2 separate regions of the Homo sapiens genome follow, and region 2 is linked to region 1. A link means that fine-mapping ties the variant in region 1 to the expression of a gene that starts in the linked region. Tissue or cell type: prefrontal cortex. Region 1 holds a variant in brackets; the other region holds the start of a gene. All regions are shown on one strand. Distances are between the middles of the regions.

Region 1 (7,244 bases):
AGTTTGAACCTGGGCAAACTTCTGGCAAGTTTAACCTGGTTAAAAAGAGAAAAGGCAAATGCACACCATTAGGAATGAGAAACAGGATATAACCACAGATGCTATACAAAGGAGATCAAAAATATAATGAGGCAGTACTATGAAAACTCTGCCATTACATTGGAAAACTTCAAAGATATGGATGTTTTCCAGAAAAATGTAAATAGTTAAAATTGGCTCAAAATGAAATAGAAAACCCAAATTAAACAATCTCCATGGGGTGTCTGTCAAGAGTGTTTACTTGGCCCAAGTTGGGCTCCAGTCCAGCAGCCAGACCAAGGCCAAGTCCATGAAGCCACCCAATGTTGTCCAGCACATAATGACCTACGCTTGAAACTCCTCCATATTGGGGGTACCATTTCTTCTTCTGAGAGCTGGGGGAATCGTGTTGGCCACCATTGGAGTTCCTCCTTGCCCCTTTGGGGTACAAACACATTTCCTGTTAGTACTTCCATTGAACAGCTCAAACTCCAATATTGACTATTTTGAATGTGTTTATGATGAAAGAAGTCCCCAAGGTGCTTATTTATGACCAAAGAGCCGGTTTATTCATGCCTTCCAGAGGGTATGTCTCCTCTCCTTGAGGACAAAGGATGTCACATCACCAAGAGAAGGTGATTAGGAAGTCTATTCCAGTCCCTGCCACAGTGGCTCTGCATGGGTGGTCCTTCAAGGTGTGGGAAGGGGGCTTCCTGGTCTTCCTCAGCTCTTTGTCAAGAGTTCCAATGTCACAGCTTTTTAGATTTGTTGTCTCATATAGGGCACATTCCTGGGGCATTATCTGGCCTCCAGGATGGCTGGATTGGAAACTGTCCTAGGATCCACAGCATTAGGGATTCAGAACCATTCCTCTCTTAAGAGCCCAACTCAGCAGTGGCCCGCCCCAAGCCTAATGCTTTTTATCTCCAAGATGATTTCATTCCAGGGGCTTCGTTGCTCTTTCCTCCCTCTGGACGTTGCTTAGGGGAGACTGGGCTACTGAAGCCGATTTCTGCAACTTCAATCTTGGGAAGAAGTGGGTGGAGTCTCAATCACTTCCCACTTTCAAGGGTCCTGGGGGCCTCATACAAATGTGCGGCCTCTCCCCAGCATCTTCCAAGGTCTGCTCATTAGTAGTTTTTCTCCCAGAAAGATATGTTAGCTATGTTAGATTTCCACCTTGTTGAACATTCTATGTTAACTGTGTTGACACGGAATATTCAACAATTCACAAAATGGCATTTAAAGATGTTTGTCTTTATCTCATCTTTCAATTGGAAAACTCTGAAGATCATGTCCCCGTTCTCCAGGGCTGGGGCGGCACCAAGCTGCATCAACCATATGTTTTCTGGCTCTACTCCTGCTGGACATATGGCAAAAGGGAACACTTCCTATTGATAGTATTTCCCCTAAATTAATGCAAATCCCCTCTGCGCAGCTACATAAATTGATTTTCTGTGTTTGAAGGGTAAACTGACATACGCTCAAAGTTTTGCAAACTAGGGAAGAGAGGTTTCTTTTCCAAAGAACACATTTCATTTGTTTACAGCCATGAATTGAGATGTTCGCATTTCCTTCCTACAAATTTGACAACTGTTACATAGCAGCAGGGGGACCAACAAACTGTCATTTACTTTGCTGCAATAGCAAAAGTAATTTGAGCCTTGTTTATGGATCATCATTTAATATAGAAACAGAAGTGATGACGCTGGAGATCATCCAGTCCCTTCCATTATTTTATTTATTTATTTATTTATTTTTGAGACGAAGTCTTGCTCTGTTGCTCTCCCAGGCTGGAGTGCAGTGGTGCGATCTTGGCTCATGGCAAACTCTGCCTCCTGGGTTCAAGGGATTCTCCTGCCTCAGCCTCCTGAGTAGCTGGGACTACAGGGGCACGCCACCATGCCCAGCTAATTTTTGTATTTTTAGTAGAGATGGGGTTTCATCATATTGGTCAGGCTGGTCTCGAACTCCTGACCTCAAATGATCCACCTGCCTTGGCCTCTGAAATTTCTAGAATTACGGGTGTGAGCCACCGTGCCTGGCCCCTTCCATTATTTTAGAGTTTGATGGACTAAGGCTCAGATAGGGCAAATGATTTGATCAAAGATTCTTCTTATATGGACCAGAACTCTTGAGTTCTAGTCACTGGTGTGTGCAGCGACTTGACACTATCCATGATAGTGGCAACTAAATCTCTGCTTTCCTTGAATTGGTTCCAACAGCAGAAGGTAGGCTCTAGTGCCAGGACACAAGGGAAAAAACATTCATCTTGGGGTTTTTCTATGCCAATTGCAAGCTGAACCTCACTTCTGCTGTGGGTTGAATAGCAACATATCAAGCCTTGGGGAGTTAAAAAAAATGTCTAGGAAACTGACAAAACTCCCACATGAGTTTGCTTCTTTGTCTACAAATAGATATCTTAATATAGAACCAATTTTACATCCTGAAATAGATCCTACTTTGTATACTATTTTCTAATACACTGTCAGATTCAAATGTTAATATTTTATTTAGGATTCTTACAACAATTACTAAGTAAAATGGAATCTATTTTTTTGTACTATTTTGTTAATTTTGTGTCAAGGTTGTGCTAATTTCTTAGCACAAATTGGGAAGATTTATATATGTGTCTGTGCTCTCCAATAGCTTGCTTATTTATTTATTTATTTATTTATTTATTTATTTATTTATTTAGAGACAGTGTCTGGCTTTGTCACCTGGACTGGAGTGCAGTGGCAAAATCTCAGCTCACTGCAAGTTCCACCTAATGTGTTCAAGCCATCCTCCCACCTCAGCCTCCCAAGTAGCTGGGACTACAGGCGCACACCACCATACCGGGCTAATTCTTGTATTTTTTATAGAGTCAAGGTTTCACCATGTTGCCCAGGCTGGTCTCGAACTCCTGAGCTCGAGCAATCTGCCTACCTCAGCCTCCCAAAGTGTTGGGATTACAGGTGTAGGCCACCATGGCCAGCCCACTAATAGTTTAAGTAAGGGGAATTATCTGTTCCTTAGAAGTTTTTTGAATTGTAAAACACCCTGTGTGACTTGGATCTTTTCTGGAAATAAATGATGGTAAATATTTTTCAATTTCTTCTATGGATGCCGATGTATTTAGATTTTCTACCTTTTCTTATAGGAATCTGGGAAATGTATAACTTCTTGGGAAATTGTCCATATTATGTATTCAACTTCAGTGATAGAAAATTGTATGTAGTATTCTCATTACTGTTTGGTATCCTTCTTGGCTGTAATTATCTGCTTATTAGTATATGTATTTTTAGAGATAGGGTCTTGTTCTGTCCTCCAGGCTGGAGTGCAGTGGCACAATCATAGCTCACTGCAGCCTGGAACTCCTGGGCTCAAGTGACCCTATCACTTCAGCCTCCCAAGTAGCTAGGACTACAGGTGTGTATCACCACACCTGGCAATGTTTTTAAACAGTGTTTTGTAGAAGTGGAGTCTCGCTATGTTGCCTAGGCTGGTCTCAAACTTCTGACCTCAAGCAGTCTTCCCACCTGGCCTCCTAAAGTGCTGGGATTACAGGTGTGAGCCACCGCTCCTGGCCTATTTGCTTATTTCTTATTGCATATATTATTTATTTGTGTTTTCTCTTGGTTAGGCTTTCCAGAACTTTCTGCATTTTGTTGATGTTTTAAAAGTATTGATATTACAGATCAATTGTATGCTTTCCTTGCTTTCCAATGAATTGTTTTCTTATTATTTATTTTACCTTTCTTCTCAATATTATATATATATATTTTCCGTTGATATTTTATTTGAAATAGTTAAACATGTACAAAATCTGAGAGAGTGTCTGTATATCTACTATCCAACTTTAACCAATATTAGTATTTCACCCTGCTTGTTTCCTTTTTAAAAAGGAAAGATATTACAGATGTAAGCGAAGCCCAGTATGTATTTGAACTAGATCCCACTCTCCACTTTCCTTCACCAGAGGTGAGTACCCTCCTGAAGTTGTGGATCATTCCTATGCATATTTTTATATTTTTATTATATAAGAAGAATATATTCATACACCATACTGAGTGTTATTTTCTGTG[A/AT]TTTTTTTTTTTTTTGAGACAGGGTCTTGTGCTGTCGCCCAGGCTGGGGTGCAGTGGTGTCATCATAGCTCACTTCAGCCTCTGCCTCCCAGGCTCAAGGGACCCACCCCACTCAGTGTCCGTAGTAGCTGGGACTACAGGTGCGCACTACCACTCCCAGCTAATTTTTTTTTTTTTTTGTATTTTTTTTGGTAGAGTGAGGGTCTCACTACGTTGCCCAGGCTGGTCTCAAACTCCTGGGCTCAAGCAATCCTCCTACCTCGGCCTCCCAAAGTACTTGGGATTACAGGCATAAGCCACTGTGCCCAGCCTATTTTCTGTGGTTTTTAAAACTTTAAATATTATTGAGTATGTATCATCTTGCTACTTGCTTTTTCATTCAACTCGATGACTTTGAGACTTTTCCTCATGCCAATACATGTAACTTTGTTTCTTTCTTTTCCACTACTGCATAGTATTCTGTGGTTGGAACAAGGTTTGTTCACTGCTCATTTCTTCTCCAACTAATGGGCTTTTATGTTATTTCAAAATTTTAAATTATAAAAACAATTCTTCAGTGAACATTCCTATACAGGTACACTTAGGTGAAGATTTTTCTAGGCTATGTTAATTGGTATGATTCCTGAGTTGTAGAATAGGCATATCTCTAACTTTATTAGACATTGCCAATTTTTCCTCCCAAGTGGTTATTCCTAATCTCACAGTCACCAGCAGTACCTGGGAGCTCCTGCCACTTCATACCCTTGGCATGAGCTGGTATTATCAGATGTGAATTTCTGCCATCATGGGGTGTGTGAATGGTATGTCATTATGGATTTAATTTGCATTCCTCTGCTTTCTAATGATGTGGTGCATCTTTTTATAATTTTATTGGGCATTTAGTTTTCCTCTTTATAAATTACTATGTTAATTTTCTCTTTCTCGTTTGTCTTTTAGGCTTTATCTTTATTCTAAATATCATTTCTTCGCTGGTCTTGTGCTTTGCCATTCTGCAATCCCTCCCGCCCCGCAATCTGTGGCTTGTTTTTCAAATTTGTTCTTAGAATCCTATTTGTTCAGATGTTTCGAATTTTAATGTAGTAAGCCACATTAATCTTTTCTTTTATAATTTTTGCTTTTTGTGACTTCTTAAATCCTTTCCTGTCCTGATGTCAAATATACTCTCATCTATCTATCTATCTATCTATCTATCTATCTATCTATCTATCTATCATCTATCTATCTATCTATCTATCTATTTATCTATCTATCTATATTAGAATTCTACAACTTTGTTTTTCACATTTAGGTTTATAATCCATCTGAGATAGTTTTTTTCATGTGGGGGGTTTATATTTATGTCTCCCTATAGGGATAAACAATTGTCTCATCCCTATTTATTGACGAATCTGTCTTCTCCCAGGGATTTGTAATGCCACTTCTAGTTTCCATCTACATGAGTTCATTTCTGGGCTCTCTATCCTTTTGAATTTGTTTATTGTCTATCTCTGCCAATACCATACTGTGTTAAATTGCATTAAGTGGCTTTATAATACATCTTGTTATATGCTACTCCAACTTCTCCACCTTGTAGTTTTTATTCCAGAGTGCCTTGACTCCTTACACTTTTATATATTAGGATCACCTTGTTGAGTTCATGAAAAACTCTGTTAGGGTGTTGATTGCGATTACATTGCATTTATGATTTAATTAATAATGAATTATCATCTTTATGATATTGAGTCTTCCCATTTGTGATAAAGGTATTCAGACTTTCATTCATGTCCGTTAATCATGTGTTATAATTTTCCCCATGGGAAAACACATTTTCTGTTTGTTTATTTCTAGGTATTTTGTGGTTTATAGTATTGATTTTTTTTTACACCTTATAATTAGTTATTGTTGGTATGGAAGAACAATATAAGTTTTTATGTATGAATTTTAAATCCAGAAAATTTACTGAGCTCTATTATTAATTAATTTATTATTATTATTATTATTTTTTTTTTTTTTGAGACAGAGTCTCGCTCTGTCGCCCAGGCTGGAGTGCAGTGGCGCGATCTCTGCTCACTGCAAGCTCCGCCTCCCGGGTTCACGCCATTCTCCTGCCTCAGCCTCCCGAGTAGCTGGGACTACAGGCACCCGCCACCACGCTCGACTAATTTTTTTGTATTTTTAGTAGAGACGGGGTTTCACCATGTTAGCCAGGATGGTTTCGATTTGCTGACCTCGTGATCCGCCCGCCTCGGCCTCCCAAAGTGCTGGGATTACAGGCGTGAGCCACCACGCCCAGCCTCTATTATTAATTTATTTGTTAGAAGATTTAGATTTAGAAAATCATAATGCCCGCCAAGAACAGTTTTGTCCCTTTCTTTGCACATTGCCACTTTTTTCATTTCCTGTTGAATTGGCTCAGACCACAAGTGAAATAGTGAATAGTAGGGATGATAAAGGGCATCCTTGTCTTGTTCTTTATTGTAAAGAAATATTACTAATCTTTCATTATAAAAATGATTTGTTTGGACTCGACATGGTGGCACGTGCCTTAAATCTCAGTGCTTTTGGAGGCTGAGATGGGAGGATCACTAGAGCCGAGGTGTTCCAGGCTGCAGTGAGGTATGATAGCGCCCCTGCACTCCAGCCTGGGCGACAGAGAGAGACCCTGGCTCTAAAAATAAAAATGATTTTTTTTGGTAAGTCTGATTTAACCTATATTAATCCCTTTGTCCTACTTTTAGTAACTTTTTTGTTCTTTTTCTAGCTTCTAAAGGTGACAGTTTAGTAAATTTATTTTAAATCTTTTTTGCTTAATAGAAAAATAAATATTTTTTAGGGCTTTATATATTTCTTTGAGTATAACTTTGGCTGCATGCCATAGATTTTGGAAACCATTGCTCTAACTGCTATTCATTTCTATGTAGTCTCAAGTTTATATTTTGATTTAAATGTTGTTTGGAAATATGTTTCTCAAAAATTATTAAATAGCTAGAAAATTTTATTTGGGGTTTCTCTTAATTGTTAATTTCTAGTTTCATTGCACCGTGGTCAGAGAATATAGCTTGTATAGGTGTTGCTTTTTGCATTATATGTGTGTATACATAGTCAGTTTCTTGAAATGATTCCATGGACATTTATAAAAACGTAATATTCTGTTTTGGGGGCATATAGGATTTTAGATAT
Region 2 (7,244 bases), 33 kb after region 1:
CGTGCATGGGCCTCATTGCTGTGCCAGCCTAGACTACGCCCTCTCACATACAAATGAACCAACTCTAAAGTCTCATTGTCTTTGATGTCCTGGTCGTACAAGTCATACCTGATTCGATGCAGGCAGCCCAACCTGGGAACAGACCTGTTCCCTCAGGCCTAGTAGCAATGCATCAAGATAGCCTGCGTCTGATGTGGGGAATCTTGGGGCAGGTTTGCCTGCACAGGGGTCATTTCTACAGATGATCCTACGGCTTATAGGAGACGCAGCGGAAAGGGTAAGGAGAGAAAGAAAGGTACATTAGGGAAACAATTTCAGGAGTTTTGCCATCACATTACTCTCCTGGCTTAAAACTCCTCAATCTCTCCCCATTGTCTACAGTACCTAACTAGATACCATTTCCTAAGCCAACTCCAGGCAGTTGTAGAAAAGGATTCTGAGGCCTCGTTCTGGCTCCATGGGAAAGAATATCATAATTGATTAGCAATGTCTGCTCTAGGCAAGAGAGGGAGGTGCGACAAATGTATGCCATTAATTTGCAGTTTTCTAGAACACAGGGAGCTCCGTCTGAGTCAAGAAGCCAGGGTAGCCGGAGGGAACTGGATGTGATCATAAAGGCCATGCAGTGTCAGGCCACTTGTCAGCTATTAATAATATCAGCCTCTAAATAACAGACAGGTGTCAGTATGCCTGCTGCCTCTGGTCAACTCGTGGTAACCACCTGGGCATAGAGATTCATGTCTATGGAAAGAACATTGTATTTTAATTACCCATGTCTGCCACCAGGCTGGGTTGCAGGAGTGGCAGCACAGTTCTCTTTCTTTCTTTTTTTGATTTTTTTTTTTTAATTTGGTAGAGACAGGGTCTCACTATGTTGCCCAGGCTGGAGTATAGTGGTGCAATCACAGTTCACTGCAGCCTTGAACTCCTGGGCTCAAGTCATCCTCCTGCCTCAGCTTCCCAAGTAGCTGGGACTATAGGCATACCACCATGCCTGGCTAATTTTTAAAATTTTTTTGTGGAGATAAGTTCTCACTCTGTTGCCTAGGCTGGTCTCAAACTCCTGGCTTCAAGCGATTCTCTTGCTTTGGCCTCTGAAAGTGCTGAGCCACTGTGCCCAGCCTCAATTCCCTGTCTTTCTGACCCTGCTCCAGTCTCAGGGGAACTCAGCTCTTTTCCATCACGCCATCCTAAGGACAGGGATAGAATGCCATTTTGGGGTCTGTGGGATTCTAACGGGACAAGGGCACTAGGAGTCAGATCTTTTAGAGGAAGAACCCTACTCAGAATCCCAGTTTTCCTACCTCATTTAACCTTGAGTAATTCAAGTTGCTTCTCTGATCATTAATTTCCTTGTCAGGAAAATGGGGATAATAAACCTGATAATTAAATGATGGAATATATAAAATGCTTAGTATATACTAAGGGCTTAATAAATGGAACTGACTTTTAGTAATTGATGATTCTGGGGTTTTACAAATAAGAACTGAAGATAAAAAAGGTGGCTTGCTTAAGGTCATCTGACTTAGTGGCAGAGCCAGGACTAAACACTGATTTGTCCCCCACAAATGCCAGTGTTCTTCTCCCCGGTGTCCACAAGGCAACTGATATTCACAGTGCTGATCTTGAGTTGTCAGGAAACACACAAATTCCCATTCGCTGACTCTCTGATTGTAGAAAGCATGTAATGTGCTTTAGAAATATTTCCATCCCAAACAGTTCTAAATGTTGTCACTTTTAATAGCAAACTTAAGCTATCTAAAAAATTTGCAGACACGGACCGGTTCCAGAGCCTTCAATGTCAAAATTCACAGTCATTATGGTCTTCTTCTACATCAGAACTTATTAGGAGCATTAACCTCAGTCTAGGAACCATGTCAGTTTTATAAACACTGTTCTTTCTATTATGGCAAGACAGGATACTTAAAGGACATTTTCCTTGATACCATTTCATTTTCTATTTACGTCATGAAAATAGTATTGAATTTGGGCAATACTACACACAAACTATTTTAGGGTTGCAGATTTTGAGTCTGTGCTGTAATAGTGTGGCCAGGTAGTGTAAATATTTGTTGGAGAAAGATTAACTAGCAAGGCAGTATATTCAGAATGGCTGCCTCTTTCATTAACCCTGTAAGGAAAGGAACTGGAAAGACACACGCAATTCTGTAAATCACAATTTATAAGCAAGCAGCAATTGAACTTCTAGTTGAGCTAGTTTTTTTTTTTCAGGCCAATTAAAGTTCATATTATTTTTTAAACAACTCCTATTCTGCCATAACTTTATTTTAAATCTGCATCTTAAACATGTAATGGCGAGAAATTTGCTATAATTTTCCACATGTATTTGGGTTAGAGATACATTATGCTCTATGCATTCATTACTTGCATGCCGTTCAAAAATCATAAACAGTGTTACTGGGAAAACTGATTGGGAAATTAATCCTTTGAAACAACAACATATGAATGCAATGATTACACAGAATAAATAAACAGCTTCCCCACAATTTCTCTTTTGGATAAATGTAAAGTCATTAGTTTCAGAACAGTTTTCCCAAGGACGTAAGGTTTTGCTTTTCCTCCGTAATGCCTCCTCAAAGCTGGTACATATCTTATGCTGAGCCATCCCTGAAAAGGTAGCCTTAATCAAAATCTAATCTATAAATCACCTTTAAAGCCTTGAATGTTTGGCTTTATGAGGTCTTACACACACTTTGCAGGTTCGCAAAGACCACAGATCAGATTATTACAATTCCTCTCAAGATGTGGCTTAATGAGGGTGAGGGAAGTATAGAAGACTTCAACTCCAGACCCTCGGAACTAGATCCCCTAGTTCACTGGATACATATTTTATGGAAAAGGGTAAGATTGTATCACAGTGTTAATCCAGAAACTCGAATCCTCTGATTAGAATCAGAGGAGAACTGAGAAGAACCTGCCGGCGGATGCACGAGTGGGTTAGAATGGAACTTCTCCCCACGAAGGCAGCACAGGCTTCGATGGAGCTTTTTTCCTGGGTCCCGAGCCACATCCTGACAGGCCACTGTGGCCCTATTGCACGCCTGGTGAGGCGGTGCATCAGCTTGGATTTTCTAACAGGTTCTTTTCCAGAACTTTTGCTGCGGGCACGGAGACTCTTACCAAATTCGGCTCCATAATACATTCCCCAAAACATTAGAACCCAGGATAGGTCTACGCCTCCACTGATACGGAAAAATATATGAAAGCGTGGATTAGGGTTTTTGCCACAGATGAGAACAAAATCCAACGGAGACTTGACATTTCTTTAGAAAGGCTGCCACCAGCAGAACTTTCCCCAGAAGTTACATCCGTGCTGACCTTCATCAGTTACATTGAGAAAAAATCTGTTCTATGTGACTGTCAGCCACAGGAGAGGGAATTTTAGGCACTGAACGTGACGAGAAGGACTTTCTAACTTTGATTCAGTTTCAACTCACACTCCCCAAACCCCTCAATGGCAGAGAGGCCGAGGATCCCCGAATGGGGAGGTGAGGCTCAGAACAGCGAGGGTGCCTGAGCACAGCACCACACTCTCCCGGTTTCTGAGCCCCGAGCCCCGCAGTGGAACTCGGGCCGCTGCGACGCGGCTCCCGTGCGGCTCCCACCGAGGCTGCTGTCCCCTGCCGCGCGGGTCCGGCCCTCCCCGCCGACCGAGGCGCGCCCCGGGCGCAGTGCCGCCGAGGAGGGGATCGGTCCCAGTGTCCACGCGGGTCTCCTCGCCGCCGCGGCAGGGCTCGGCCCGACTTCAGCGAGCAGATCCTCCGCCTGCGGCCGGTGACCCGCGCGACGCCCCGGCGGCACCGACAATGCTGTGCTCCAGCCCCGCAGGCGCCGCGGCAGCGGGTCCCGGGATGCTCCCGCGGTCCTTACCTGGCGAGGCCCGTCCCGTGCGCTCCCGGGGTCCTGGCTGGGCCGGCGCCGAGCCCAGGGCGACCGCGGATCGCCGGCTACGGCGTTTCCCGGTGACGGGGGCGCGGGCTCGCGGGGCGCGGGGGGCGCTGCCCAGGCCCGGCTCGGCAGGAGTCAGAGCCCCCAGCGGCGCGGGCGAGCCCGGGCCAGCAGCCGAGAGGGGGCTCTGAGCGGAGCCGCGGCCGTCCTGGCATTTTAAAGGCGAGGCAGCTGGACGCTGTTCAAGCGGAAACGCAGAGAGAAACTTCAGCCCCCGGGGCAGAGCGTTGGCAGCGAGGGGAGGGGGCCCAAGAGCTCCTTGCAGGCGCACAAACCAATCTGGGCTATTCCAATATGCTCTTCAAATGCATTTTCTTCAGATATTCTCTTTACAGTTAAAAAAAAAAATCCCCCCAAACAACAACGACAGCAAAACCCTCTCAAAGCCTTCTCCTGCAGTATGCTTCATAGCAAGCCAAACATTTCCATTAAAGTTAGGGGCAAGAGCAGGGGGCCGGTTTGGGACGTCTGGTCAATGCAATCAGACAAGAGAAGGAAATAAGGTGTAAAAATACTGAAGTTGTGCCTTTGTTAAAAAAATATATATTCTATATGTGTGTATATATGTATATATATTATATATATGTGAAGCGGGAGAAAAATGATTACTGTTTGCAGCGGATGTGATTGTGTAGTTGGAAAGTGCAAACTGAAGATTGTTGAAATAATAGCCTTTCCAAGGAATTGGCAGGCTACAAAATAAACATACCAAATTAACGGTGTTCTTGTGCACTTACTAACCATTTTGAAAGGCAAATAAAAAATCCCATTCTCACTAATAGCCAAGCCACAGTAGCTAGGAAAAATAAACTTATCATGAAATGTGAAAGAAAAAAAAAAAAAAACAACCTTCTCTACTAGGGGACTAGAGAAGACTTGAATCTATTATGACGCACGCCTTATTCTTGGGCAAGAAGAAGTAAACACTGTAATCCCATCATGTCCTCTTTATCTGTCAATTCAATGCCATCTCTATCAAATTCCAAGTAGAATTTTCTTTTTAACTTGACATGATTCTCAGTGTCATGTGGAAGAATAAAGAGACCAGGCAACAAAATGTTGATAAGGAAGAGCATAAGGGAAGCTAGCCCTGCTGGATATTAAAATGAAGAAATGCTTGCATGCATAAATGAATAAATGAATAAATAAAATACATTGTTTGAGTGCTTACTATTTAAGGAAGTGCTCTACGTGGATTAATGCATTTTATTCATCACAACAAGCTATGATGCAGGTACTGATACTGCTGCCATTTTCAGATAGGAAATGGAAGCCCAAAAGTGTAAGTATCACACTTACACTTTTGTGTAAGGTCACACAAGTAGGAGTAGGGGATCAGGGGTTTGATGCAGGCGTTCTGCCTGCAAAAACTATGCATCTATGTGCTTCAACCCCATCACACGACACCGCCTCTGTCACAAGGCAAAAACCAGCACATTACTGGTCCGGACATGACTGTTCAATGGAATGGGATGAAGAGCCCAGAATTAGAAGTACATGAGAAACTGTGGTGTTTAAGGTGGTACTTCATGTTAATCAGATAGATAGTTTTTATTTTATTTTATTTTATGTTTGAGACGGAGTTTTGCTCTTGTTGCCCAGGCTGGAGTGCAATGGCACGATCTCGGCTCTCTGCAACCCTCTGCCTCCTGTGTTCAAGCAATTCTCCTTCCTCAGCCTCCCAAGTAGTTGGGATTACAGGCATGCGCCACCACACCTGGGAAATTTTTGTTAGGTACAGGGTTTCACCATGTTGGCCAGGCTGGTCTCGAACTCCTGACTTCAGGTGATCTACCCACCTCTGCCTCCCAAAGTGCTGGGATTACAGGCGTGAGTCACCACGCCTGGCCCAGATAAATAGATGTTTAAATAAATGATATTGGAATAACTAGATAGTGAAAGTGTGGGGATCTCATTTTCTACCTAGTTCCCCAGACCAAAACAAATTCCAGATCCGTCATAAATTGAACATAAAAAACTGAAGTCAAAAAATAATTAGATGAATATATACATAAAAGTCATCATAAACCTAGAATTCTGAAAGCCTTTCTAAATATATCATAAAAGCATAAAGGAAAAGACTGATATATATGATTATAAAATATGCAAATAAATGTCTTCATGGAAAAAGACACCGTAAACGGAATTCAAAAATAAACAACAAACTGGAAAAATATTTGCTATCCATATGAGATGGGGTTACTAAGTTTAACAGAGATATAAACCTGGTTGAATTGGAATTTCAGATAGGCTATGAATAATTTTTTAGTATGATTATGTCCCATTCATCATTTGTCTGAAAGTCAAATTTAACTTGATGTCCTGCATTTTAATCTGAAAGCCCTAACATAACAGCAACATTTTAATGTAGATATCTTACAAAGAACGCTTATAATCATTTTTTTTAAAAAGATGATCACCACAATAGAACAAAGAATAAAAGAGATGAGCGGCCAGTTCACAAAAAAAGAAATATAAATGTCCCAAACAAGAGAAAATAACTGTCCTCTCTAGCAGTGAAATAAATGCAAATAAAAAATTTAGGAAGTTGTACTTTTTACCTACTAGCTGGCAAATTTTAAAATATTGAACAAATTCAGTGCTGCTGAAGGGTCTGGAAAAATGGGCATTCTCTCTCACTGTTTATGAGAATGTAATTTGGTACAATATTTCTAGAAAGCAGTTTGAGGACAAATATCAAATTGAATACTTTATGTACAAGCAAATTCATTTTCAAGAACTTATCTAAAGACATCATCTGACAAGTGGACAAAATATATATAGCAGATGTTTGTTGCTTTGCAGAAATAATTTATAATAGTAGAATATTGGAAACAACCCAAATATCTGTCAATAGGGGATTAGTTATTGAAATATAATTAAATCATAATACTATGCAATGAGACTTACTGTGATGTGTGATGCAGGCATTATTCTTTTTTATTCTTTGTTTTTGAGACAGGGTCTCTCTCTGTCATCCAGGCTGGAGTACAGTGGTGTGATCTCAGTTTACTGCGGCTTGGATCTCTTGGACTCAAGCGATCCTTCCACCTCAACTTCCCAAGTAGCTGGGACTACAGGTGCATGCCAGCACATCTGGCTAATTTTTGTTTTGTTTTGTTTTGTTTGTTTGTTTTTGGTAGAGACATGGTTTGCCATGTTGCCTGGGCTGGTCTCAAACTCTTAAGCTCAAGTGATCCTCCTGGCTTGGCCTCCCAAAGGGCTGGGATTACTGGCATGAGCCACAGTGCTGGGCCGATGCAGGCATTATTCTA

Alleles and levels. Positions count from the first base shown, and alleles are read on the strand shown. Sizes are in standard deviations (SD) of each study's normalised expression.
With allele AT in place of A in region 1, the expression in prefrontal cortex of the gene that starts at base 4,098 in region 2 is higher (small effect, 0.27 SD a copy in BrainSeq).

What was found. PIP is the estimated chance that this variant, and not a neighbour inherited with it, causes the effect.
Region 2: it holds the start of CTXND1, and the variant in region 1 is fine-mapped to the expression of CTXND1 in prefrontal cortex (BrainSeq, PIP 0.95).

What each region holds. Positions count from the first base shown.
Region 1 is chr15:80,214,850-80,222,093 of GRCh38, forward strand. The region is part of intron 1 of CTXND1 (cortexin domain containing 1); the gene reads right to left. Among named protein-coding and RNA genes, the nearest start is that of CTXND1, 34 kb to the right of the region's middle. The variant A/AT (reference allele first, on the strand shown) is at 4,086.
Region 2 is chr15:80,248,116-80,255,359 of GRCh38, forward strand. CTXND1 (cortexin domain containing 1) reads right to left here and starts at 4,098. Exons shown (of 3, transcript NM_001352888.2): 1 at 3,892-4,098.